Homo sapiens: one gene and its partners. The protein of the gene in region 2 purifies or fractionates together with the protein of the main gene of each other region. This does not show direct contact. Each region holds a gene or a part of one and is shown on either strand. Other genes may lie near its edges.

The links.
Region 1: the proteins of STX3 (region 2) and GOSR1 purify together in Homo sapiens (affinity purification with mass spectrometry; 4 studies listed by BioGRID and IntAct, with this or other methods). This does not show direct contact.
Region 3: the proteins of STX3 (region 2) and YKT6 purify together in Homo sapiens (affinity purification with mass spectrometry; 4 studies listed by BioGRID and IntAct, with this or other methods). This does not show direct contact.
Region 4: the proteins of STX3 (region 2) and STXBP5 purify together in Homo sapiens (affinity purification with mass spectrometry; 4 studies listed by BioGRID and IntAct, with this or other methods). This does not show direct contact.

The regions. Positions count from the first base shown.
Region 1 is NC_000017.11:30,487,392-30,494,427, reverse strand, and holds part of GOSR1 (Golgi SNAP receptor complex member 1), read right to left. Parts: intron 4,303-7,036; coding exon 4,211-4,302; intron 1,750-4,210; coding exon 1,675-1,749; intron 1-1,674. UniProt on the Homo sapiens protein: Involved in transport from the ER to the Golgi apparatus as well as in intra-Golgi transport. It belongs to a super-family of proteins called t-SNAREs or soluble NSF (N-ethylmaleimide-sensitive factor) attachment protein receptor.
Region 2 is NC_000011.10:59,793,375-59,800,410, reverse strand, and holds part of STX3 (syntaxin-3), read right to left. Parts: intron 7,032-7,036; coding exon 6,897-7,031; intron 5,040-6,896; coding exon 4,929-5,039; intron 4,810-4,928; coding exon of another isoform or gene 4,699-4,809; intron 3,129-4,698; coding exon 3,045-3,128; 3' UTR 3,015-3,044; intron 737-3,014; exon of another isoform or gene 1-736. UniProt on the Homo sapiens protein: Potentially involved in docking of synaptic vesicles at presynaptic active zones. Apical receptor involved in membrane fusion of apical vesicles.
Region 3 is NC_000007.14:44,210,943-44,214,795, reverse strand, and holds the end of YKT6 (synaptobrevin homolog YKT6), read right to left. Parts: intron 3,774-3,853; coding exon 3,672-3,773; intron 3,243-3,671; coding exon of another isoform or gene 3,228-3,242; exon of another isoform or gene 3,188-3,227; intron 2,550-3,187; coding exon 2,514-2,549; 3' UTR 502-2,513; downstream 1-501. UniProt on the Homo sapiens protein: Vesicular soluble NSF attachment protein receptor (v-SNARE) mediating vesicle docking and fusion to a specific acceptor cellular compartment. Functions in endoplasmic reticulum to Golgi transport; as part of a SNARE complex composed of GOSR1, GOSR2 and STX5.
Region 4 is NC_000006.12:147,382,382-147,389,417, forward strand, and holds part of STXBP5 (syntaxin-binding protein 5), read left to right. Parts: intron 1-396; coding exon 397-617; intron 618-2,332; coding exon 2,333-2,374; 3' UTR 2,375-7,036. UniProt on the Homo sapiens protein: Plays a regulatory role in calcium-dependent exocytosis and neurotransmitter release. Inhibits membrane fusion between transport vesicles and the plasma membrane.

The DNA of each region.
Region 1 (7,036 bases), on a different chromosome or scaffold from region 2:
AAGTAGTTACAAGCTTGACACTAATTCAAAGTCAGTATTTTCTTCTGACTGACAGACTCAGGGAAAGAGAAGCCAAAAACGAAAGTTACTTTATCCACCATATAGCAAAAGAAATTTGTCATCCATAACATAAATTGCTAAAACCTAACAGCATTTATTTTTATATAAAAAGAGTATTAAGGAGAGCTGGTAAAAACAATTCATTACAAAGTTGTGTGTGTGTGTGTGTGTGTGTTTAAGTATGGCATTCATTTACAAAAACTGATTTACTCTTTTTCCAGGCAAAAATATGTGCTTTTGGAGCAAGTAAAAAATTACATTAACATTAAAAAACAATATTTATGAAGAAGCAAAAGCTTAAACATAGTTCTAGCCATAAAAGGTCCGACCCTACTGCAAAATATCAAACTTGGAAATTTGCCAATATTATAGAAAAACTTTGCAAATGAGTGTGTTCTTTAATCCTGCAATTCTGATTTAGGAATTTAGAATGAGGAAATCATGACGGATACACACAAAGGCTTTACTGTGTATAATAGTAAAAACAGAACATAACCCAAAAGGCCAACATTAGGGAAATGGTTACATAATTTATGGTTTATCTTTATTATGGAATATATGCACCATTTATTTTAAAAAAACAAAAAATCAAATTATATGGGAAAAAGCTTGCAATCTACTGAAGAGTAAAAAATATTACAGAATTTGTAGTAATGTGTCATTTCAATTTTCTTTTTGTGTTGTTGAACTATCCATACTTTCTAAAATGAGCACTATGAAAGGCATTTAGCTTTTGTTATTTAAAGTTATTTCAAAAAAATCTTGCCACTTCTTCCTCAAAGCACTTGGCAAATGAAATACAAAAACACTGAAAAACTAAAGTTTTTCACATTATTTTGTAAACATATTTTACTGATAATTTTAATGTTATTTTATTACCTAGCAAGTATTTGTAATTACAAAAAAAAATTGATTTAAGAGAAGTATTTAGAAGCTTGTGTTATCATACTGAGGGCAATGACGAAGCCCATCTTTTCAGTCTCTACGACTCATCTAATTCATCAGGAGCTCTTATTCCATTCAGTTTCATCCTGTCTCAGTCTCTCTCTGTAGAGAATTAGCACATGCACTGGCCGGGTGCGGTGGTGGCTCACGCCTGTAATCCCAGCAATTTGGGAGGCCAAGGTGGGTGGATCACGAGGTCAGGAGATGGAGACCATCCTGGCTACATGGCGAAACTCCATCTTTACCAAAAATACAAAAAAATTAGCCAGGCATGGTGGCACACGCCTGTAGTCCCAGCTACTTGGGAGGCTGAGGCAGGAGAATCGCTTGAACCCGGGAGGCAAGCGGCTGCAGTGAGCTGAGATTGAGTCACTGCACTCCAGCCTGGGTGACGGAGCGAGACTCCATCTCAGAGAAAAAAAAAAAAAAATAACAACCATATTAAGGTAACAATTAAGTGATGTGAAATATTCAACAGCATAGGATCTTTCCTAATTATGGTTGGAACAGTTGCAATTCCTTTTCTATTGAAAAGAGTCATTAGGAGAATAAAATGAATTAGCATGGACAAGGCACTCAGTATAATAAACATCATAAAATGTTGGTTACATAAGTAAATGAATTAATAAACGTGGAAAACCACATAATGCACATACATTCAATACCTACTTTCGAAGGTGGTCATGTTCTTTCAAAAATAGCTCAGTTCTTCTGTTGTTTACTCCAGACCCACTTTTATATGACCTGGGACAAAAGAGAAAATTTAAAAACATTTTTGGCAGAGAATACAAAATCAGATTGACTGACCCTAGTGATCTTGAAAGTAGAAAAATTGAGCCTCTCCAGAGTTTTGAATGAACAATGAAAGTACATAATCCTTTGCATTTCCCTCTGAAAAATGTTATCTATTTTAGGTAGATAAATATTAATGCCTCTGCATCTCTAATTTAGGCCCAACAGTTTACTGTTTTTCACCAAAATAACTCAACATTCTGAAACAAACAACCAAAACAATCTTACTTTTCCTTTACCTCCTATCTCTGATATCTTCATTTTTCTCCAAGTAGAAGTAAAACTTAGGACTGATTTAGTACACAGCACACAGGGTGGGAAAGCTGTTGAAATGAAATGTTTTCTTTCACAATAATATATGTGGTCCACCAACTGAAGCCTAAGGAACACTGAAATCAAGCTAAAGATTTGCTCATTTTGGCACACTTAAGGATAACCATTTTGGTCTTCAGTGTATTGAAGTTGACAAAAAAATTACTCTTATCACTACTATCAAAAATTTAATTTTTCTGTTTTCCACTAATAATAAAGTATCAGGAACAATTTTTTTTTTTTGGAGACAGAGTCTTACTTTGTTACCCAGACTGGCATGCAGTGGCACAATGTTGGCTCACTGCAGCCAACATGCTGTTAAAACTGAAATACTGGCTGAAAGGCAGTGCTACAGGAGAAACCACCACCAAGGAAAGCAGAATAATATAACCAAGAACACATTGGACTCAGGAGACTGATGACTTGGATTTAAATCTATACTGAATCATTTCATAGCCACTTCACCTCAGACAAGTGTCTCAATACCTAGTTTTGTAAAATGAGACTGATCATTTCTATCTTAACCAAAAGATTGCTATGAGGCCAAAAAAATATAATACATTAAAAAATACTGTGTAAACTACTACATATACTTTCCTCTAGCACCTAGATTCTAAACTCCTACAGGACCACATTGGTCTTTTCCTTTCTTTTTTTTTTTAGACAGAGTCTTGCTCTGTCACCCAGGCTAGAGTGCAGTGGCACGATCACAGCTCACTGCAACCTCCACATCCCAGGTTAAACCAATTCTCCTGCCTCAGCCTCCCGAGTGGCTGGGATTACAGATGCCTACAACTACGCCCAGCTAATTTTTTTATTTTTAGTAGAGACGGGGTTTCACCATGTTGGCCAGGCTGGTCTTGAACTCCTGGCCCCAAGTGATCCACCTGCCTCAGCCTCCCAAAGTGCTGGGATTACAGGCGGGAGCCACCACGCCTGGCCGGTCTTTTCATTTCTACCTTCTGCTGTGACTAACTCAGAGTTGATACTCAGGAGACAGTTTAATGAATAGATGAACATATCTTTTATGGCCATTTTTCAAAAAGCAAGTTATTACAATGGGTTGCATTCTAGTGATTCCCACAAATTATGGGGGGGCTCAGTGTCTATACATTAAAGACCATCCCCTATATGGGTTCCCAATGCATTCCTCAAAACATATATATAAATGGACTACATGGAAATTAAACAAAAGACTTAAATGTCCTGAAGGACTAAAAATATTACAACAATCTTACTGTTGAAACTGTTACTGTTACAATAAAATAAAGGATCTCTAGGAAAGTGTTTTCGAGAGTACACATAATATACAGTTTACCATAAATGTGTATCATAGTTTATAAAATGTATCACATAATTTATCACAAATGAGATGATGACAGGTATCATTAGATGGCTCCAAATTGGAACATCTTCAGCTTCAATGAGACGCCCATGGGACTTAACTTTGTCAGTAGTGTTCAGTTGTAAAAAAATTTCCAAAAATGCTATGAAATGCTAGAATAGATCATTAAAGGTGAGGTGAAGGGACAGAAGAAAAAAACAAATATTTAAAATTATAGATTGAGATCAGTATGAGAATGTTGGGAGTCCTTAAATAATTTAACATAAGGCTATGAGTGAGTTTGTACATATTACTGTTTGTAATATGTAACTGTTGGGACAAGGGAGAGGGCCAGGGGATAGGTGATAATCAGGAAGAGAAACATAGGGAGCTTCAGTTACTGATAATGTTACAATTAAAGAATTTTTTTTTCTTTGACACATCTGCAGAGGATCATAAAAGTAACATTATAATTCTTAGGGTGGGAGGTAAGAGATCAGAGAACCATGAAGAACCACCTAAGCTGGACTTTGAATTAAGACAGGAAAGTCAAGGTTGGCAGGAGCCAATGATAAAGTAAGAGGAAGCATGAGATAAAAATGGAAAAGTAGATTAGGATGACATTGTAGCAGCAATGTTAAAAAGACAGTGAAATGGGAATTGGAAACCCTAAAATCTCAACCACGGTTCTGCCACTCAATTTGCAATTAACCGTGAACATATCCTAAAGCCAAATCTGAATAAATATTCTACAAAATAATATAAAAAGTAACTTACTCAATATCTTTTCGTACTGATCCCATAAGATTCTCCCTTTCCCGTATTGCCATAAAGTTTGCTTTGGTTTTATGGAATTCATGTGTATAATCCTGTAATAAATCAACATCCAGTCTCAACAGAAGCTAATTATGGATTTTCATCTCACTGAACCAGTTATGTATCGTCATCACACTGTAAATTTGTCAAGAAAACTGCTATTTAAGAAATCAAATTAACCAAAGGTAAAAATAACTTTAAAATTACTTTCCTGAAGAGTGACCAACTTCTTTCAAGTGAAAATAATTCAGTGCTAGGGAAACAGTGCCATTAAATCACTATCCTTTGTACCTCCTAGTACTCTGTCTTACGAGGCAGAATTAAGAAGAAAAAAATTCTGAGATAAAATAACTTCAAATAGTCTAGGAGAAAACTTGAGAGGCTCTTTTTACTTAGTAGTATACTTAATAGAGCTTATTTTCAAATTTCATCATTTTGGAGCTCTCACAAAAAATTTAATTCCTAAACAAAAAAGAACAGAATCAAGAGAATTATAAGGAACAAAATAATCTTTAAACATTTTCTACTATTTTTGTACCACTGTTAAAAGTACTTCATTACTTTTCATAAATTCAGAGATGTAGATAAAGAAGAAAATCAAAATCTTGTCTCCCAGAGTCCCTGTTGACCTTTTAAAAAACAAAAGTAACACATAAACATGGAGGAGAATATTAAAAGAGCACCAAAAGAAATAAAGGTGAAACAAAGGAAAACAAAACATTCTGCTCCATACCTCATAACTGTTACCATCATTTTGTATTTTCTTCCAGGAAATTATTATTTTCTTTTTTTTTGGAGACAAGAGTCTTGCTCTGTCGCTCAGGCTGGAGTATAGTGGTGCCATCTCAGCTCACTGCAAACACCACTTCCTGGGTTCAAGCGATTCTAGTGCCTTGGCCTCCCTAGTACTGGGACTATAGGAGCGTGCCACTACATCCAGCTAATTTTTGTATTTTTAATAGAGATGGAGTTTCACCATGTTGGCCAGGCTGGTCTTGAACTCCTGACCTCAACAGTTCCACCCACACTGGCCTCCCAAAATGCTGGGATTACAGGCGTGAGCCACTGCACCTGGCCAGGAAATATGTTTTTACATATACAAGCTTATCTATTATTTCTTTCACTTTGCCAAGTAAGTCATAATATACATTCTGATGTACACCTTGCTTTTTGTACTTCATAAAGTATCAAGCAATCTTTCCATATTAGGAAAAAGAAATCTACATCATTCTTTTTAATAGCTGCATAGAATATTATCTTATGACTATCACAATTTAATAAATTCCCTACTGATAAACACATTAGTTGTTTTCATTTTGTTTGCTATTAAAAATACTGCAAGACTAGGCAGGGTGGCTCATGCCTGTAATCCCAGCACTTTGGGAGGCTGAGGTGGGCGGATCACTAGAGGTCAGGAGTTCGAGACCAGCTTGGCCAACATGGCGAAACCCCGTCTCTACTAAAAACACAAAACTTAGCCGGTGTGGTGGAACGCACCTGTAGTCCCAGCTACTTTGCTCAGGAGTTTGAGGCAGGAGAATCACTTGAACTTGGGAGGCAGAGGTTACAGTGAGTTGAGATCATACCACAGCACTCCAGCCTAGGCAACAGAGCGAGACTCTGTTTCAAAAAAAAAAAAAAAAAATACTGCCAATAAACATTCTTACATATATTTTTTAAACTGAACTCTTTTATTTTAAAAAAAACTATATTTAGGCTGGGCGCAGTGGCTCACGCCTGTAATCCCAACACTTTGGGAGGCCAAGGCAGGCGGATCATGAGGTCAGGAGATGGAGACCATCCTGGCTAACACGGTGAAACCCCATCTCTACTAAAAATACAAAAAAATAGCCGGGCATGGTGGCGAGCGCCTGGAGTCCCAGCTACTCGGGAGGCTGAGGCAGGAGAATGGTGTGAACCCGGGAGGCAGAGGTTGCAGTGAGCCAAGACCGCGCCACTGCACTCCAGCCTGGGTGACAGAGTGAGACTCTGTCTCAAAAAAAAAAAAAAAAAAGTATATTTAAAGAGTAAATGTCTATTAAGTTCAACAGAGCTTAAAAAAAAAAAAAAGGAGTAAATGACTAGCAATAGAATAATTGGATCAGGGCTGGGTACGGTGGCTCATGCCTGTAATCCCAGCACTTTGGGAGGCCGAGGTGGGTGGATCATGACATCAGGAGTTCAAGACCAGCTTGATCAATATGATGAAACCCCATCTCTACTAAAAATACAAAAATTAGCTGGGCGTGGTGGCGCACACCTGTAGTTCCTGCTACTCGGGAGGCCGAGGCAGAAGAATCGCTTGAACCCAGGACGTGGAGGCTGCAGTGAGCCGAGATCGCACCATTGCACTCCAATACTCCAGCCTGGACAACAGAGCGAGACTCCGTCTCAAGAAAAAAAAAAAAGAATAACTGGATCAAAGAATCTCACATTCATTTAAATTCTGGTAGTGCTAAACTGCCTTCTATAAACATTACATCAATTTATGTTCCCACCAGCAATATATGAGTACCCTTTTTAAATTTTTACTCTTGCCAATAATGGGTTATAAATGTTTCAACATTTGCTAATCTGACATGTGAAAAATCACCTCTTTTAGATTTCTGTATTTTTATTTGGAAATACTGCTGAAAATGTTTTTATAGTTTTGGCCATTCATTTTTTTGTAAGCAATTTTATATCCTTTGTCCATTTTCCTACTGTCTTTTTCTTATTTCTATTATATCTCTGTGTAGTAAGCAAATTAGCCATTCGTTATGGTTTCCAGTATCAAGTCTTATTTAG
Region 2 (7,036 bases):
TATGGCTGCTCCACCTTATGAGCTATGTAGTCTTGGGCAAGTTCCTTAACTTCATTGCTCTTTCCCCGTCTGTAAAATGAGGATACTATGATCTTAGAGCAAGCAGCTGGCACATTACTAGGAAATATAAACACACTGTCTACCCTCCTGTTCAGAGACCTCTCTCCCTTGGGTGACATGGAGGAAGAGGAGAGTCCAGACCTAGGCAACAATCAGTCTTGACTTTGTTAGGGAACATGGAATACACTACAAAAAAAGCAGCTTAACAACTGCTCAGCAATTTAGCAGGTTAAAGATAGGGTTAGTCAACCAAAAACAACATATTAATTAGTCTGCTCCTCTTTGAGGAGTTACGTCCTGAAAAATGATTCATATACCTTCTGAAGTCCTGGAATTAGGAATAGAAAGGGGCACCACAAATTTGCATATCATCTTTCATCCAAGGATATGGAAAAATAACAACTCTTATATCTTTTTAAAATTTCAACATCTATTTCAATCAGATTGTTCAGAGCCAAACCAAAATTTAAAGTTCACATACAAAAAAGTCAAGGGCTAGACTCCAAGTGCCAGAAAAAAGAGGGGAAAAAAAAAATCAACCAACCACCTGTCTATGAGAGGTTGTTCATCTCACTGTTGCTTATCTTTCAAGATGAAGTTGAATGCTCAATGCTGTAATAAGCTGACTTTTAGATCCCCTGGTCACATGGAAGGAGGAGGAATAAGAAGAGACACACTGAAACAAATATAAAAGGAAGGCACAGCTCTGGGTACTGGCATGGTATTATGTGCCAAGTCTTAAAAATGTTTATACCTGTTATTTCAGTACTCCAACTTATATGAGTTGGTAATAAAGAGAAAATTTAAATGAGAAAAATATTAAATAAGGTTAGTCACACTGTTAGCTACAGCAAAATAACATAAACCTCCAACATTGTGAAAATGTTAAATATTTGAGAGTATGGCCACAATCTCATATTGAAAATTAGATTTACAAAGAGATTTTAATGCTGTGGAATGATGCTTATAATTTTCTAACTGGGTACAAAACTGGATAATATAGTCTGAACTATGTAAAACTATGTCTGAGTATGTGAACGTGCCACAAGGTTATCAGCAATAATATTAAAAGTTCATTAGTTTTATGTTTTCTGTATTTTATAGGTTTTTTTTTAACAATGCATGCTATATTTTATTCAGAAAAATATTTTAAAAGTCACTGGCTGGGCGCAGTGGCTCATGCCTGTAATCCCAGCACTTTGGGAGGCCAAGGCAAGTGGATCGCTTGAGTCCAGGAGTTCAAGACCAGCCTGGGTGACATGGCAAAACTCCATCTCTACAAAAAATATAAAAGTTATCTTGGCGTGTTGGTGTACACCTATAGTCCCAGCTACTCAGAAGGCTGAGGCGGAAGGATCACTTGAGCCTGGGAGGCAGAGGTTGCAGTGAGCTAAGATCGCACCACTGCGCTCCAGCCTGGGCGACAGAGCAACACACAATCTCAACAACAAAAAAAAATTGTTTGTTTTAAAGTCACAAAAGTCTTAATAGTCCCAATAACCAGATTGATATGCTCACTACTATTAAACGTGATTCAGGCCGGGTGCAGTGGCTCACGCCTGTAATCCTAGCACTTTGGGAGGCCGAGGCGGGTGGATCACCTGAGGTCAGGAGACCAGCATGGCCAACATGGTGAAACCTCGTCTCTACTAAAAATACAAAAATTAGCCGGGCGTGGTGGCAGGCACCTATAATCCCAGCTACTCGGGAGGCTGAGGCAGGAGAATCGCTTGAACCCAGGAGGCGGAGGCTGCAGTGAGCTGAGATCGCGCCACTGCACTCCAGCCTGGGGGACAAGAATGAGAAACAAACAAAAAACAACAACAACAAAAACGTTTTTTGTTTGTTTTGATTCAGGCCGGGCGCAGTGGCTCACGCCTGTAATCCCAGCTTAGGCGGGCAAATCACCTGAGGTCAGGAGTTCAAGGCATTCTGGCCAACATGGCAAAACCCCATCTCTACTAATAATACAAAAATTAGCTAGGCGCTGTGGCATGTGCCTGTAATCCCAGCTACTCAGGAGGCTGAGGCAGGAGAATTGCTTGAATCCAGGAGGCGGAGGTTGCAGTGAGCCGAGATCATGCCACTGCACCCCAGGCTGGGAGATAGAGCAAGACTCCGTCTCAAAAAAAAAAAAAAACCAGTGATTCAGTGGTAAGTCTATCACTTTTAACAAATTTTCAAGAAAATGAATAGTCTAAATTTTAGCATCGCTATCCTCTAAGGTTCTCCAGGCTTTATAGTTAATGATAAGTGGCTACCTTCTTTTACAAAGAGAAGCTAGGTCCACTATTAGCTGTGTGAACTTGGCCCTGTTATTCAACATTCTCTTTGACTGAGTTTCTTTGTCTGTAAAATGTGCATAACACTGTATCTGTCTCAAAGGATGTTGTAAGGATTCAATGATATGTGTATAAGGTGTTTAGTACATTGTCTGGTACAACACAACACTCAAAAGTGTGTTAACTATCATCATTTAAGACCCAACCACTCAGCAACAGAGAAAACTCTGCAGATCCAAATCCCAATTCAGAGTTTCATTTACATTGAAAAGGATACAGAAAGTAAAGCCCAACATCCATGAAAATCAGTAAGAATTCAGAAGACAGACTCCAGATCCAAGACAGAGATGTACCCAACTTAGAAGCATGCTTCCTGAGTAAGGGGAGTCACCTGGGGTGCTCAGGTATGCTGGGAGAAGTGGTAATACGACAAGACAGAGATTGGGGACAGAATCTACAGGATAAGAACAAACGGAGAGCTCATCCACGTACTGCAGCCAGAAACCAATAGAACTATAAGGAGATAAAGAATCCACAGGCTACTGAAAGTTTTAGAAAGCTCAGTGTGTCCAAGGACAATCATAGGGGGAAAGAAGAGGAATTTGAAATCCCAAGCTAATTTCCTCTTGAGGAGCCAAATCCAGAGTCCCCAAGAACCACTCGTTTACTTACATTTCAGTGCAGCAGCCTCTTAGGCCACTCTTAATTCAGCCCAACGGAAAGTCCAATAATCAATGCTAAAATGCCCAGCAACACAACTACTAGCACAATGATAATTATCAATTTCTGGAGAGAGGAATAAGACAAAAACAAATCATTATTACAAACAACCAAAAAAATAACAACTCATCCAAAACCTAACCCCTGTCACCTCTACATAGAAAATATCTTACCAGTCTGAGTAAGAGGCCTACATCTCTACATACAGACATCCTTCTAGGATACTTCATTTATTTTTAAGACAGGGTTTTTCTCTATCACTCAGGCTAGAGTGCAGTGGCATGATCATGGCTCACTGCAGCCTCGACCTCCTGGGCTCAAGTGATCCTCCTGCCTCAGCCTCCTGAGTACATAGGACTACAGGCATGCACCACCATGCTCAGCTCATTTTCTTTATTTTTGTAGAGACAGGATCTTCCCATGTTCCCCAGTCTGGTCTCAAATTCCTGGGCTCAAGCAATCCTCTCACCTCGGCCTCCCAAAGTTCTGGGATTATAGGTGTGAACCACCACACCCAGCCTAGGACAGTTTAAATTTCTTAAATTACTTCTAGGCTAGGAATGCCAGCAGAGGGAAATATGGGGCCTCTCTCAGCTCTCAGCTCACACTGCAGTTCTGTATATGTGGACAGATAGAATCAGAGCCACTATCGTGGGGTCTCTAAGGAGCAGTTGGCCAAGATAAAAAGTCACTGACTGATTTTTTCCATTTTAAGAGGGAATGTAAAGGCATTTTTGATAGAGTTCTAATTTCCTACTTTTGCCCATACTCCTACCTGTCAGACCCAGTACACTGCCTGGATATCAGAAAATGCCACCCAGCCTGGATTCACCATGTAAAATAACTTCCCAGTCCCCTAAATCCCTGCATAAGCAATAGGTAAAGTTGGATGAAAAACAAAGAACTAAACAACAACAATATCAGAGCCCAAGAGAACCAGTCAAAGGAGAGAAGTCTAAAAAGCAGACGCCACCAGAGCTGGATAACCACAGTCGTGAGCACAGAAGCCTAGAAGTCCTTAAGCGGCAGGGGCACCAGAGGGTGGGCAAATACAGTGGTGTGGTAGAAACAGAATGATTGGGATCTGAACTTGAATCCCAGTGCCTCTACTTACTAGGTGGCCTGAAGCCAGTTACTGAGCCCCTGACCCTCAACTGTCTCATTTATAAAGTAGAAATAACAGGTGCTCCATCAGATATGACATAATGTATAGATAGCAGTTAGCATGAGCTAGGTACAAGGTAGAGAAAAAGAGAAGGGAGGCGGAGCTTGGGCGCCTGGAGTGGAAGACAATGAAGAGAAGGTTTCTGAACAGAGGAGTCAAGTGTAACATCTGAAAGCCTCATGAGCTAAGTCCAGGAGAAGATTAGCAGCACCACCTGGGCCATGCATCCATCCTACAGAACTGCCTTTCAAGTGTGGGTTTTTGGGGAGATAGCTTGTGAGCCAGATCCATGCAAGGCACACCTGGGAAGGAAGGGCAGGCAGCTTGTCTCTAGGAAAAGCTGAGGGAGGGGTTGATGAGGCTACGACAGGGAGGGAGGCATGGGCTCAAGAACACAGGTAGGGGTGGCCAGGGAGAAGAGATACTAGTAAGACAGCTGAGACGAAGGACAGTTGAGATGAAGGTGCTCACCCTCCGGGCTTCACTCTGATACTTGACAGCCTTTTTGGTATCTGCCACGGCCCGCTCCACAAAGCCCACTGACTGGTCCATGTTGTTCTCAATACGGTCAATCATGGATCCCTTTCCCCAGATGCAAGAGGTGGTGGCAGCAGAAACAGAGACAGGGAGAGGGAAGAGAAAGAGCGAGACACAGCAAACAAAATGGACTCTCTTCTCTGAAGGCCACAGGAGAGTCTCACCTTCCGGGCCTGACTCTGGTATTTCACAGCTTTTTTCGTTTCATCTCGTGCCTTCTCCACGTGGTCCACTGTGTGCATGACATTCAACTCTATGTTATCTAACATCTCACCCTGCAAAGAACAGACTCTGATCACACCAAGTAAACGTCTCAGGTCAGTCCTAGCCAATGCGGGGAAGGGATTCTCTTTCTTACAATCTTCAGTGGCAAGAAGAGCATCCACAAACCTTGATGCATGGCCTTCCATAGGACACCCATTCACAGTCCTTGGTGGTGGGGTGGCAGTCACTTGTTCAAGAAACATTCAGTGAATTTTACTACTTCTCTGTGACCAGCACTCCACCAGGCATCCAGAACATACTATCTAGATACCTAGTAACTACCTATAAATATACTCTGAGATATCCCCAGACAACCTTTGTTATTTTTTTTACACTTAAGCACATGGAGAGGAACCAAAATAAGGATATCTCATTGTTATTAGGACATCACTAGGATGCTGGCCTCTTCCTGGTCATTCAGACCTGAATCAACATCATTCAGCCTGAATTGAGTATATTCACTAACTGCAGAAGAGTGCCTGGCACACAGTAGGTGCTCAATAACTATCTGAGGTGGGGAACATTTGCTTTCTCTAAGTTATTTCCAGGCCCTTTAACTGACAGACATTGGGTTTACCCAAGCTATTTGGTTATATTTTCCCTTCCAGACAGTGGTCTCTTGATAAGCTTCCCAACCATTTCCTAGCAATCACTTCCTGACAGGGAAGTTTGATCATTCCAATTAATCTTAGGCATTTTAGGAATTCTCCTCAACTACCCAACCCAACTCTATCACTTTATGGCAGTCTGTAAACAGAACAAGGCACTTACCACCACTTGAATCTCAAGCCAGTTCCTCGGCAAGGCAGTGTGGGGGAAAAGAAGAGGTGGGATGGAGGGACTTGAGAAATGGTCTCAGAGGCCAGTAGGGAATGGGGGGAAAGCATCCAGGCCCTCGGCAGGGAACCAATGTCAAAAACTAGTCAAGCTGTGCTCGAGCTTCAACTAGGTTGTGCAGTCTGCCTACTATGGAAGCAATTTTCTCTCCTATCCCAAGTGTCAGAGCAGCTGGAAGTTCATGGCAACAGTGCACAGCACCATGACCCTGTGGCACACTTAACTGTCCCATAAGAACTAGGAACCATCTAACTATGCGAAACTAGCGCCCTATGCAGGCAATCCAGAATTCTATCCCGAGCAAGCATGCCTGGGACAAAGTAAGCTGTCAAACTAGCACCACGAGTGTTTCGAGTCTTTCTGTCAATGCTATTTTGCTACTCCTTCATTCATGTTGTTGTCTGCTCTGTGCCTTAGCAAAAGGTGCCAAAATTAAAAAAAAATACAAACAGAAAAAAAATGGAAAAAAATAAAAATTTATGTTAAACCTGAGTCTTCCCTGTGAACTAGAGAAAAGATCACATTTTCAATGTCATCAGTGAACTAGTCCATATCAGGAGGCTGTTTTAAAACGTCACCATTAGGAGCCCGGATCTCTGATTTTTAAGAAAGAAAAAAAGACAAATCCTGGGAGGATTGCTTGATCCTGGGAGGTCAAGCTGCAGTGAGCTGTGATCACGCCACTGCACTCCAGCCTGTGCAACAGAGCAATACTCCATCTTAAAAAAAAAAAAAAAATCAAAAATCCAGGAAAACTGGGTACTTGACAGAACACATCAAACCCTGTATCAACTAGCAACGACTGCAAGGCCAAAGGGACAGGCAAGAATGACAAGGTTAAGATCACCCAAAGTGTCAACATTCAATTTGAATGCACACTTTCCCATGGGATTCTGTTTCTCCTTTATGCAAATTCCCAATGGTTCTCCCACCCTACCTCACTGGCTTCCAGTATTCCCTTTCTCCCTGTTCTCAGTAGACCCTGAGCTTTCCTCTCCTCCCTCCCCACGCTGGGACTCACTGCCACTTACCTGATTCTCCACCAGCATGGCGATGTCCATAAACATGTCGTGAAGCTCCTTGATGCTGCTCTCCAGCCTCACAATGTCCTTGTGTCGTCCCTCAATCTCACTGAGGGCTTGCTTGGAAATCTGTGAGTCAATGATCTACA
Region 3 (3,853 bases), on a different chromosome or scaffold from region 2:
GGAAGCTTCCAGGTACCCTGTGGAGCCCCCTCTGCTCCTGAAAAGTTGCCACCTGTGCTTGGTGGGATGCCAGGTGGTCTCAGATTGACCCTGGGGTCAGCGGTGAGGGACAGGAAGCCTACAGCGGGATCAGGATGGGGATGGGGCCTCCTGTCCCATGGCTCTGCAGCTATGAGGCAGCTTTCCTAGGGTGGGTCTCCTGGCTGCAGCTAAGACCAGGCAACAGGATTCAGCAATGACAGGGCTTCTTCTACTCCAGGGCTCCCTCACCTGGTTAACAGCAAAAAAGAAAATACAGTTCCTGCTAGCAAGGTCTATAGAAAGGAGGTGAAGGAGTCAGGCCTGCAGCTACCTCTCCTGGACAGGAGCTGGTCAGGATAACTTGGACCCTTGCATGCGGCAGGCCCACAGGCACACAGCATGAGGCCACTCTCTCCCCCGGGGGAAGGGCTTGGTGAAGAAAGGATTCCCCTGAAGCACAAAGAAAGCACAGGACCACTGTGAAATTTCAAGACAACTTTATCCAGACAGGCGCCTCTCAAATAGAACACAGGGAAGTTAGGCAGCAGTTACTAAAATACAGTCTCGCCAAATGATTTACAACAGAACACAACAGGAGCAGGGGATCTGTGGGTGGGGCTGGGCTGGGCCCTCTATCTCACAGGGCCTGAGTCAAGCCAGCCCGCCCTGCAAGGCAGGGGCTGACCTGCAAGCGGAGATCTCACTTCCTCTTACCCCAAATTCATACCTCCATTTTCCCCGCCCCCATCTCTCCCCAGGGTCCTCAAGTGGGAAAGGGAGAGGTAGCATCCCTCGGATCCAGGCCCACTCCACTCCGTCTCCGGCACCAGTGGGCAGGCTGAGTCTGGGCCTCAAGGGGCCCTGGGCTTAGGGTATCTATGGCAGTAGGAAAATGACATGGACAGGCTCTTCAGGGGTAGGCTAAAGTCCTCTGGCCAGCAGTACCCAGAGAAAATGGGCAGCAGCAGGTAAACCAGCCAGGAGGTGGAGTCCTCTGAACCCACAGCAGACCCCACCCTCCTGCCCAGCCCCTGCCCACATTGGGGGTCAGGACCACTGAGACTCTGGTCAGGACAGTGGGTGCTCTCAGCAGTGTGGCAAGCTCAGAGCAGAGCTCCCAAGGACCATACCACACTGGTTCAAAACCCATAGGTGACACCATCCCAGCAGAAGCTTCCATGGGTGCTGGATCCCAGGGCTGCATCCTGAGCACAGGTGGGCAGACTGGAACATAACACTAGGACCCAAGGGATCCAGAACATTTTAGGCCCATCTCCTGGGCTGCTCCAGCCTGTTGCCATGACTTGGGCAGTGAGTGGGCCTCCTGCCAGGTGGCAGGGCACAGCTTAGACCAAACCCTTGGCCTCCCCCCTCTGCAGCTACCTCTGACCAAGAAGGAACTAGCAAGCCTATGCTGGCAAGACCATAGGTGGGGTGCTGGGAATCCTCGGGGCCGGCTGGCACCCACTCCTGGTGCTCAAGGGAGAGACCCACTTGTTCAGATGCATAGGCCTCAGGCGGTTCAAGGCAGTCTTAGAGCCACAGAGTCAAATAAAAATCAATTTTGAGAGACCACAGCACCTGCTGCTTTGATCGTGATGTTCAAGGCAAGTTGCAAGTCAAGGCAAGTGTCCCAGAGGCCCTGGGCAGCTGAGTGCACCTGTGTTTGATCTTCCCCTGATGATGGACACTCCCAGCTGACCATCCAAACACCAGGAAAACATCCCCCTTTCCTGGGCTCAGTTCCTAGTCTACTTGCTGGTACGAACCCAACCCACACACTCCCCGCCCACAATGCAGCTCCTTCCAAATCCTCCCACAAGCCACCTTTGTGGGACTTGGAAGCTGCTTAGGATGGGCCCTGCCCTCTGCGGGAAGCCAATCCTAGCAGAAAGGTAAGCTAAACAACAGTCTCAGAATCTGAGACCCAGTGACTGTTCCCCCCGCCCCAGGCCTTGGGCCTGAAGTGGGGGCCTGCCTGTGGCCTCTGTGGTGGGCTCACTCCCACCCCCAACAGTGGCCCCAGGAGAGGCTTTCCCAAGAGTCTTCAAACTCCACCCACCCCAGCCCTAGCATCAGGGACTCCCCACCCCCCACTGGAGTGTTAATATCATTAATGTACAAATAAGATCCAAAGATATACCAAAGATCGAGAAACAGCTGGCTCCGACCTCCCTCCCACAGAGCCTTCCCAGGGTTAGCTGAAAAAGAGCCCTTTGGCATCTACAGAAGCCAGTCGGAGTTTATGGTTTCATTTGCCCAAAAATACACCTTTGGGGACCTCAAATTCTTTCCAAGAATCACTACCACACATATGAATTTGAACATTCGCCACCCTTCCACCATCCATTTCTCGCAGGAACTTCAAAATAAAAATGGCCAGTCTGCCCCCACTCTGGCTCCTCGTCTATGGCTGTCTCTTCTTTTCCAGGGGCTGCAGTTCTGATGTGAATGATGGTGCCATTCCAGCATTGGGCCTCTGGCAGGCTGCATCACATGATGGCACAGCATGAGTTTTGTTTCCGGGCCTTGGAAAAAAACAAAGAGGAGCTGAGAAGGAGGACTGACGAAGTAAGGGAAGCCCCAATCCTGGCAGGCGTGGCAGAGGGAGCTCCACAGGACACAGCCAGGCAGAGAAACTAGCACTAGAACAGGGTGGGGGTGGAGGCCTTGAGGGAAGCTGTCCACAAGCAATTCCCATCACCAAGCACAAGGCGGGCCCCGGCTTCCAAAACTAGTCTGGGATCCTTTTTCCTTTCTTTTCTCACACCCCATTAATGCTATCAAAAAGTGAGTAAAATTCCTACAGTTAGGCCAGGTACAAACAAAGGACCAATAATACAAATGGGATTGGCAGAATATCTTAACTTTGCCCCACTCCTGTCTTCACACAATGCTATCTGACCACCACGGTGGTGTTTCTTCCTAGAAGATGGTCCTGAGGACAACAGATGTGGTTCCCACTTGGGATGTGGTTTGTGGGGACCACTGTTGCCACCTTCTCTCTTGCTTTCTGGTCACAGACTATCTTCCTAATCCCACCTAGCCATCTCCCTCCAATGTGCACATGAAAGCAAATGTGTGTGGACAGACCAAGTAAATTTGTCCCTATGACTATCCAACCATGGGCCAACAGTGCCATCTCCACATAGGAAGACATGAGCACTGACCTGAGAGAAAGCGGCAGTCAGCAGCACCCATCCTTGTCAATTAAATATTTTCTGTCAAAGGGAAATTAAAAGCTTAAGAACCTCTTCAGGAAGGCTGAATTGCTTGCATCTTAAAGACTTATGTCTACTCAGCAGAAAGAGGAATAAGATTCAACAGTAAATCTCTGGTGATCAGAACTTGAACCAGCCTTCCTGGACTGGGAGTAGGAGTTCAGAAATCAGCCAGAGCAGCAGAGGGCAGAGCAGAGGCAGGAGTGGAACAAGGCCTCGGCCCGCATCGACTCCAACGGCGCCCAAGTGAACTGCCTCCAACCACCTGGGCCTGAGGCGCTCACCTTAGGCTCTTGCCGCACAAGGAATCATCCACCATGATTCAACAGTCTAAGAAAGACCCGTTCATAGTGGAGAGTGCCAGAAGCAGCAAGCTGCGACTGCTCTCTAGAGAGAACACCCAGGAGGCAGCAGGTGCTGGGTACTCACAGTTTTATAGAAGGCTTTAGACTGTGTTCCCAGCACCTCGGATTTGGACACCAAGTCATCTAGCTTCTCACCTCGCTCTAACAGAGACTCCATGGTGTTGTGCTGGACAAAAAAGAAAAGAGAATCCAGCTCTGTTCAGTACGTGCCCTGACATGAGCCCCTCATATTTCAGTCATGGGGGA
Region 4 (7,036 bases), on a different chromosome or scaffold from region 2:
ATCAAATCTGTATATTTAAATTTAAATCTGTATATTCGAAGCTAAATATCTTTCGTTTTTTGCACAAAAGAGCAGTTTTTGCCATTATGTAATTGGTAACAATATACCTTTATTTGTTTCATTAAATATTTACCAGCTCCTTTTTAGTATGTCTTGTTGTATGAACTAGTATAGAATATTTAATGTACATTGTGTTTTTGCATGTTTGAAAAAGTATCTAAAAATTATTAAACCAATCATAACAAAAGAAAGCATGTATTAAGCATATTTCACTTTATAATTTTATTTCAGTTGTATTACCACTCAATCCAAAAATTGTATTTTAATGTAGTAGGATTTTATATTAGTAAAATGTTCATGTTTTGAGTTACTCTTTGATTTATCAAATGTGTTCAGTTGGAGAATCGTCCTCAGGAAAGGCTTCAAGGAGCCTTGCACAGCATATTCCTGGCCCTGGTGGCATTGAAGGCGTAAAAGGGGCAGCATCTGGAGTTGTTGGTGAATTAGCACGAGCCAGGCTGGCACTAGATGAAAGAGGGCAGAAACTTGGCGATCTGGAAGAAAGAACTGCGGCCATGTTATCAAGTGCAGAGTCATTTTCTAAACATGCTCATGAGGTACGACTCTCAAACAGATATTTGAACAAAAAGCTCTAGGTAAAGCAAGTGTGAATGTTACTTTATTTTTATAGCTATTGTATTTCTACACCCATGAATTTGCATATATTCATTGTACAATTGCAAGTTCCTGATTTTTGCCACCAGAGGGAACCATTACAGGAATGTATCTCTAATAGCCTTTGGTTTCTTACTATAAGATTATAAATTTTGAAGGAATCTGCCCACCTTCAGGCTTTTGGTAAGCAAAGCTACCAGCTTTGCAACTGTTTCTTAAGGAATGCGATACCAATGTTAATTTTTCTTAATGCCTCAGAGTCTACTACCACTTTGTCCTAGAAAAAGAAATAATTTGCCTCCTTGAGTCTTCCAGATAGATATAAATAACTAAAATTGACAAACCTTTTTATTTAAATAAACAATACTAAGTCCGCGTTGTGGACCAATTCATATGGAGGAGTAGAGAGATGCATTTTGCAATGGTGGACCTAGGAAGTCATGATAGAGCTCAGAAACACACGCTGTAAAGTAGGGATCCCTGACTGGCCCCCTTACACCACATCGTGCTCTTAAAAAGCTGAATTTAAAAGCCTTTACGGGAAATAACACATTTTTCATTTTGACACACAGGCCTGCCTTTCCTTGGTGCTTTACACTAGGTTACTTCACACATCTAGTTCCTAGGCTGGCCCTGGAGGACATTTTGAATTTGTCTGAAGAAACAATTTTAAGGTTGTTTTTATATTTGAGCACCCAATCTGTAGTGGTAGCTCTTTTTTAAATTTTTCAACCAAAAGTCATTTCCTCCTTGCTCAAAAATGCGGAAATCTAGAATGCATGAAGAGGTAACTTGACCTGGAAGATACTTGTCTAGGGCTTCAGAGAGGTTCAGAGATCCTTTATGATTACTTGTACTATACCCAGGCACCTCAGATACAGGCTTGTGGTGGTCAATCTAGGTCAGGATTTTTGTTGTCATAACCCTACACCCGATTGTATGATCTCTACAGCATGTAGCATTTCAGTCAATTTCGGAATATATTCACACTCTGAATATTTAGGAAATATTTAATCTCACACTGTTAACTTTCCCTTCTACCAGTTGTTCTTGAGCCATATTTCAGAGTCTAAGGAAGACAGTACATTGAGGTAGTTACAATCACAGGTTCTTGAATTAGACTGCATGGGCACAAATTCCAGTTTCACTACTGCATTACCTTGGGCAACCCCTAGAAGCTTCAGTTTCATTTATTAAATGGGGAGAAAAACAGTGCCTAGCCCAAGAATGGTTATGACTGAAATCAAGTAGGAAAAGTGTGTCATGCAGTGTCTGGCTCAGAATAGATGCTCAGTAAATTTGAGATGGCAGGAGGAGTAGCATTTTCAACCTTTAATTCGCCAGTTCTTCAAGCATTATTTTTAATTCATAGTACAAAATAAAAATTATCTTACTTTTATATTACTAGCTTAGGTCACCAAATTATGTCACATTTCTAAGAAATCTGTGGAACTTCTAGGCTAGTTCTTAATGGATATCGTATTTTTTCCTCCAAATAGAATAGTTCTTACTGCTTTTAATAAGTTGAAGTAAGCATATAGTAGCACTACAGAATATTGCAGAATGACATAATGTTTTGGAAAAATATAGAAATCACTTATAAATGTTATTGTTCCGGCATTTTAAAAGCATGTTTTTCTTTTTTTTCCCCCTTTAGATTATGTTGAAATACAAAGATAAGAAGTGGTACCAGTTCTGACAACCAGAATCCAATAAGTCCAACTTCAGCCAGAAGGAAAAAAGTTTTCCATTTTTATTACATTCTTTAGGAAAGTTAACGTTAAAGGGATGTTCGTCACTGAATACTGTTCTTTCCTAGCACAGTCATGCACTGTTTTACCTCAGTCATGTGGCTTTAACTGAGGAGTGTTCACACGCACTCGAAATGGAGTATATGGTGTGTGCCAGTTATGAGTTGACCATTTGGGAATTAAACAGGTCACACGTGACAGATGAAGAAACCAAGGGGGCTGCTGAGGAGACCTGGTGCAGGGACTAATCCTGGATCATTCCTGTATTAAACTTTCATATGCCAAAAGGGTTTGTGCCGTTTTATCTGCCATCAGTGTTTGACCTGTTTAGGGCAGAGGCAATAAGTCAGAAGTCTTGAAGTTGAAATAGTTATATGTGTGTCATTGGACTGGATTATAAACAGCTGTCTTGGACTTTCCCTCTCTTAACACTGACTGGTCATCAGTATCATTAGTGAAAAAGAAACAAATTGTTTGTTATCATCTCTTTAGACAGATAAGCTGAATGGTGGGCTTTAAATAATAAAAACATACACATAGTTGACTTGTGTATGAGCTACTCTTGGATTCTTGTTATTATAGACTTGTATTTAGTTCATATTTTGTCAAAAGCAAAACAAGAAGATACATCACTTTTCATTGAAAAGAAAAGTGTAGAGCATGACTGAATTGCTCATCATTCTGGGAGTTTCCATGTAGTGGCTATGCAGTGTGGAAAGTGAGAAAAACCTCCATTGTGGTGAGGAGAATACTTCAATGTCCCTTGTCCTTGTTCTCATTAATTCAGCTAAAGGTGGATTTGACCAAAATAATGCTGGTTAAATTTGTAGAAATGTTGAAATTGGCTGTGTTTTAAATTTTGCTTGAATTTTTATAAAATGTTTAACCAAATGTACCTTTGCATTCTTTAATTAAAATTGCTTAAAAAAAAACTTTCATTATTTCAGTAAAATGCTCAGCTCCCTTTTCAAAATGCCCTTTATTTGCTAACTGTTCCAATACACTCAGGTGATGAGCCAATTAAATGTTAGTGCACATGCTATCGCATGGAAAATTACAAGCATCTGTTGTCAATAATTATATAAGAGTTTAGTCTGATGACCTACAAAATATTTTGTGTAGAAATATACTATAAATCTGTACATATCCTTTCAAGGTTTTAAAAAACCAAAAAGAAAGGAAAATATGTACACTGTGATAACTAAATTATTTCTGTATTGGAATATAATACAATTTGAGACCAGCAATGGACAATGAATGATTGTTTCATAGAATAGCATTACGGGCAGGAAAGAAACCACCTAGTAGATCTAGAAGTAAGCAATCTCAGAATACAGACTAATCTGAGATTATTATTGATTGTTGTTAAAGCAACCCAGCAAAAGCAAAATGGAAGCATTAAAATTAATGTTAATGAAATTTAAATATTGTCTTCTATAAAAAATTCCTTTAAATGATTTTGTTTTTTCATTAAGAGATAATCAGAGCACAAATTGATAGTAAACAGGATGGTTGTTTTTCTATTCTATATGATCATTAAAGGAATATGTAGGACATCTTAACTTTTTCATACAGTCTGTTATGCATATTTTCCTCTACTTTTCATTAATAAAGCTTTTATGTTTACATTTTATAACATGCACTACTAGATGCAAAAGTTTACATCAAAGTTTACTTTAAATATCATTTGGTAGGGACTAAATGTGTGTGATAGAGATAATTGATCAAGCCAAAAGAAATATTTTTTAAATAAGCCCTTTTCAAAAGTTTTTGAATTTATAGAAAGCACCAATGAATAACATATTTCTGTTTCGTTAATGTCAGCTGCCTGAACATTCAGCAGTTTATAAATTGCTTAATTTGTGTTATCTATTATCCAGTAAACCCATAGTTCCATGATATGTCACAGGAATTGTTAGGTCCTATTTTAAAGGTACAGTTTTGTGAATGTCATCAATAAAATCAACAGTTATGGATTTGAAGAAGTTGGGAAAGCATTATGTAGATTAATATACTGGTTGGTTCCCTATCTATGTGGAAGGTCATATTAGCTGCAATTATTTAATTTGCTGTGTTATTTTGTGTTATATAACACAAATATATTTGTATATTAACTTCATTTTTACTGTCATTTTTCCTGTTGTATACAAAATGAACTAATCTTGTAATTATTTTCAAATATAGAAGTATATACATTAGATGGATTTCCAAGATTTTGTAAGAAAATCTTAAATCAGTGTTTTGAGTTATTTAATTTTTAAATTAATCTACAAATTATGCACAACAAACTAGAGACTCAGTTAGGATTAGAAAGCTTAAAGTATGTTTGAGTGTAGGAAATAAGCTTCTCAGAGTTATACTTGATTCTGTCTGTAGATAAGAGACAGTCTACAGTAATAACTAACCCAGGGAATTTACTGTAATTTGAGAGGTAACATCTCTATTTTTTTCTTTTTAAATACAGAAAGTAATAGTCACCAGCAAGCCACGATTTCAGGAAAACTGACTAAAAAAAAAAGTCAAAATAGAAAATATCAGAAAAATGAAAGATTTTTGTGTGCCCTCTCCATATCCTCATTGTTTTTGTTGCATTTGTCCTTGACTCTAAAATCACTGAAGTATTCATGATTAGTAGTTTGTAAGTAGGAAGTGGTTTTTCTGTATGTACCATATATCCAGTTCATTTCAGTTTTCAAACTAAAATCCATATGTATTTGCTGAGAAAGTTATTTGAAATCTTATATTCTGACAAATTCTGTACATTACATCCATTTGAAGTTTTGCATCATCTTAACACTTTTGCTTTGCATTTCAATTGTACAAAGTGTTTCCAAAAAAATGGTTATAGATTCGACTGAGCTATTACTAACTTCTCCATTTGATTTTTTATGGATGTGAAAAATGCTGCTACTTGTCTATGTTATTATGTGTAAGTATATTACAATTTAATTAAGTACAATAGTTTAAAGAACGAAGCAATTTTTTTTTTTTTGGCTTAGAACTTCTTAATTGTAGGTTCCTCTGAAGCGATTTCATGTAGATATGTGAGTGTTTTAAACAAGTCTGAAAGTGTTACATACTTTTAGGTTACAGGGGTGCTGGGGAGACAGCTGAGGAAAGGAAGAATATGTGGAAGACACCACGGAGTTCAAAGTTTTACCCTGAGTTCTATCTTCCATGTATGTTTTGCTTAAGGCATTTCTCATGTGACATTAGAAAAGCTATATCCAAAGGTAAATTTTTTGTGGCAAAGATTTATTTTACACTTTAACTTTTGGGATTTTATTTGTTTCAGCAAAATAAAGAGCACTGAACTTTAAACTTGAATTTTTTCTGCACTTTTTTAGGTAATGAAAACTTTTTATTATCATTTAATCCACATTGCTCAGTTTAAACCAAGTGATACATGTGTATAAAACATACCAAAATCATGAATATGCTGCTAGCTGTACCTTAAATAAACTGATCAGTTTTAAAACCTTTAATAGGGTTTTATATAGATTTAAAAAATAGTAAAATAATCTGCTGTATGTTTCAGTGTTCTTGGTCTTAAATTATTGCAACACTTTCAGATTTGTTTTAAGATCATACAGTAACATGTTATATTTATACATACTGCTAGAAAATATACTTTTAGTTTTAAAATGGAATTTTTATAAATGTACTTTAATTTTAAAATGGTGAACTTGTTAAGTTTAAGTCAAAGTACTTAAAAAGTATGTATATTATCCATACAAAAAGTTATGTTTTACGCTTATAATAAGAAATACTGGTATCTCATATCGAGATACAATTAATTTTAAAAAATCATACATCATTTAAAAATCTTCACACATGAACAGGAAAGATATCATTTCTATGCTTTAAAAAACCCTCTATTGAGCATTTTCAAATATTAATTTTATTTTGGGGGAAAATGCCCACAACAATAATTGCAAGATCTTTCTCAATAGCTTCAGTTTGCTGTTGGATGCCTACCTTAACTATTGTTTTAAAATATAGATATATATATATATATTTAAAATAGTTTTCCAGGTATTTTCTTCTACCTTTTTTAAAAATAAATTTCCAAAAATGAAAACAGAGTTTATGTATTTTTGTCAATGAAGGTTTTTATTTTGTAGTTTATAGAATTTGTTCCTTATCAGTTTGATACTTGATCAACATTCTTAGACTTTTTAATCTGTATTTACTTTGGGGGGAAAAAAGCACTCCTATATCTTAAATGTCCTTCTTTTTTCTTTTCCCTTTTAGGGTATTTGTTCTCTTGGATTGAAATTTATGCCCACAGATTTTTCTTTTCATTTGAAAATGAATGTGAAGATACTGTTTACAGCTTTTGTTAATTGCACTTTTCATCACTCTGATCAATTTCTTGTAAAGTGCTATGGGAATTATTTTTCCTGTGAATATTAATGATTTTACTACTGCCTCCGAAGTTTTAAAAAAGGTTCTGTAGACAGAAAACAGTTGTTGCAACCAAAAACAACCAAAAAAAGAAAAAAAGGGAAAACTGGCTTACCTTTCTCAGATGAATTAAATGATTTTAATAACTTCCCAATTACCAGGGTTATAACATTGCTTTCTTCAGTTATTAATACAGTCAAATT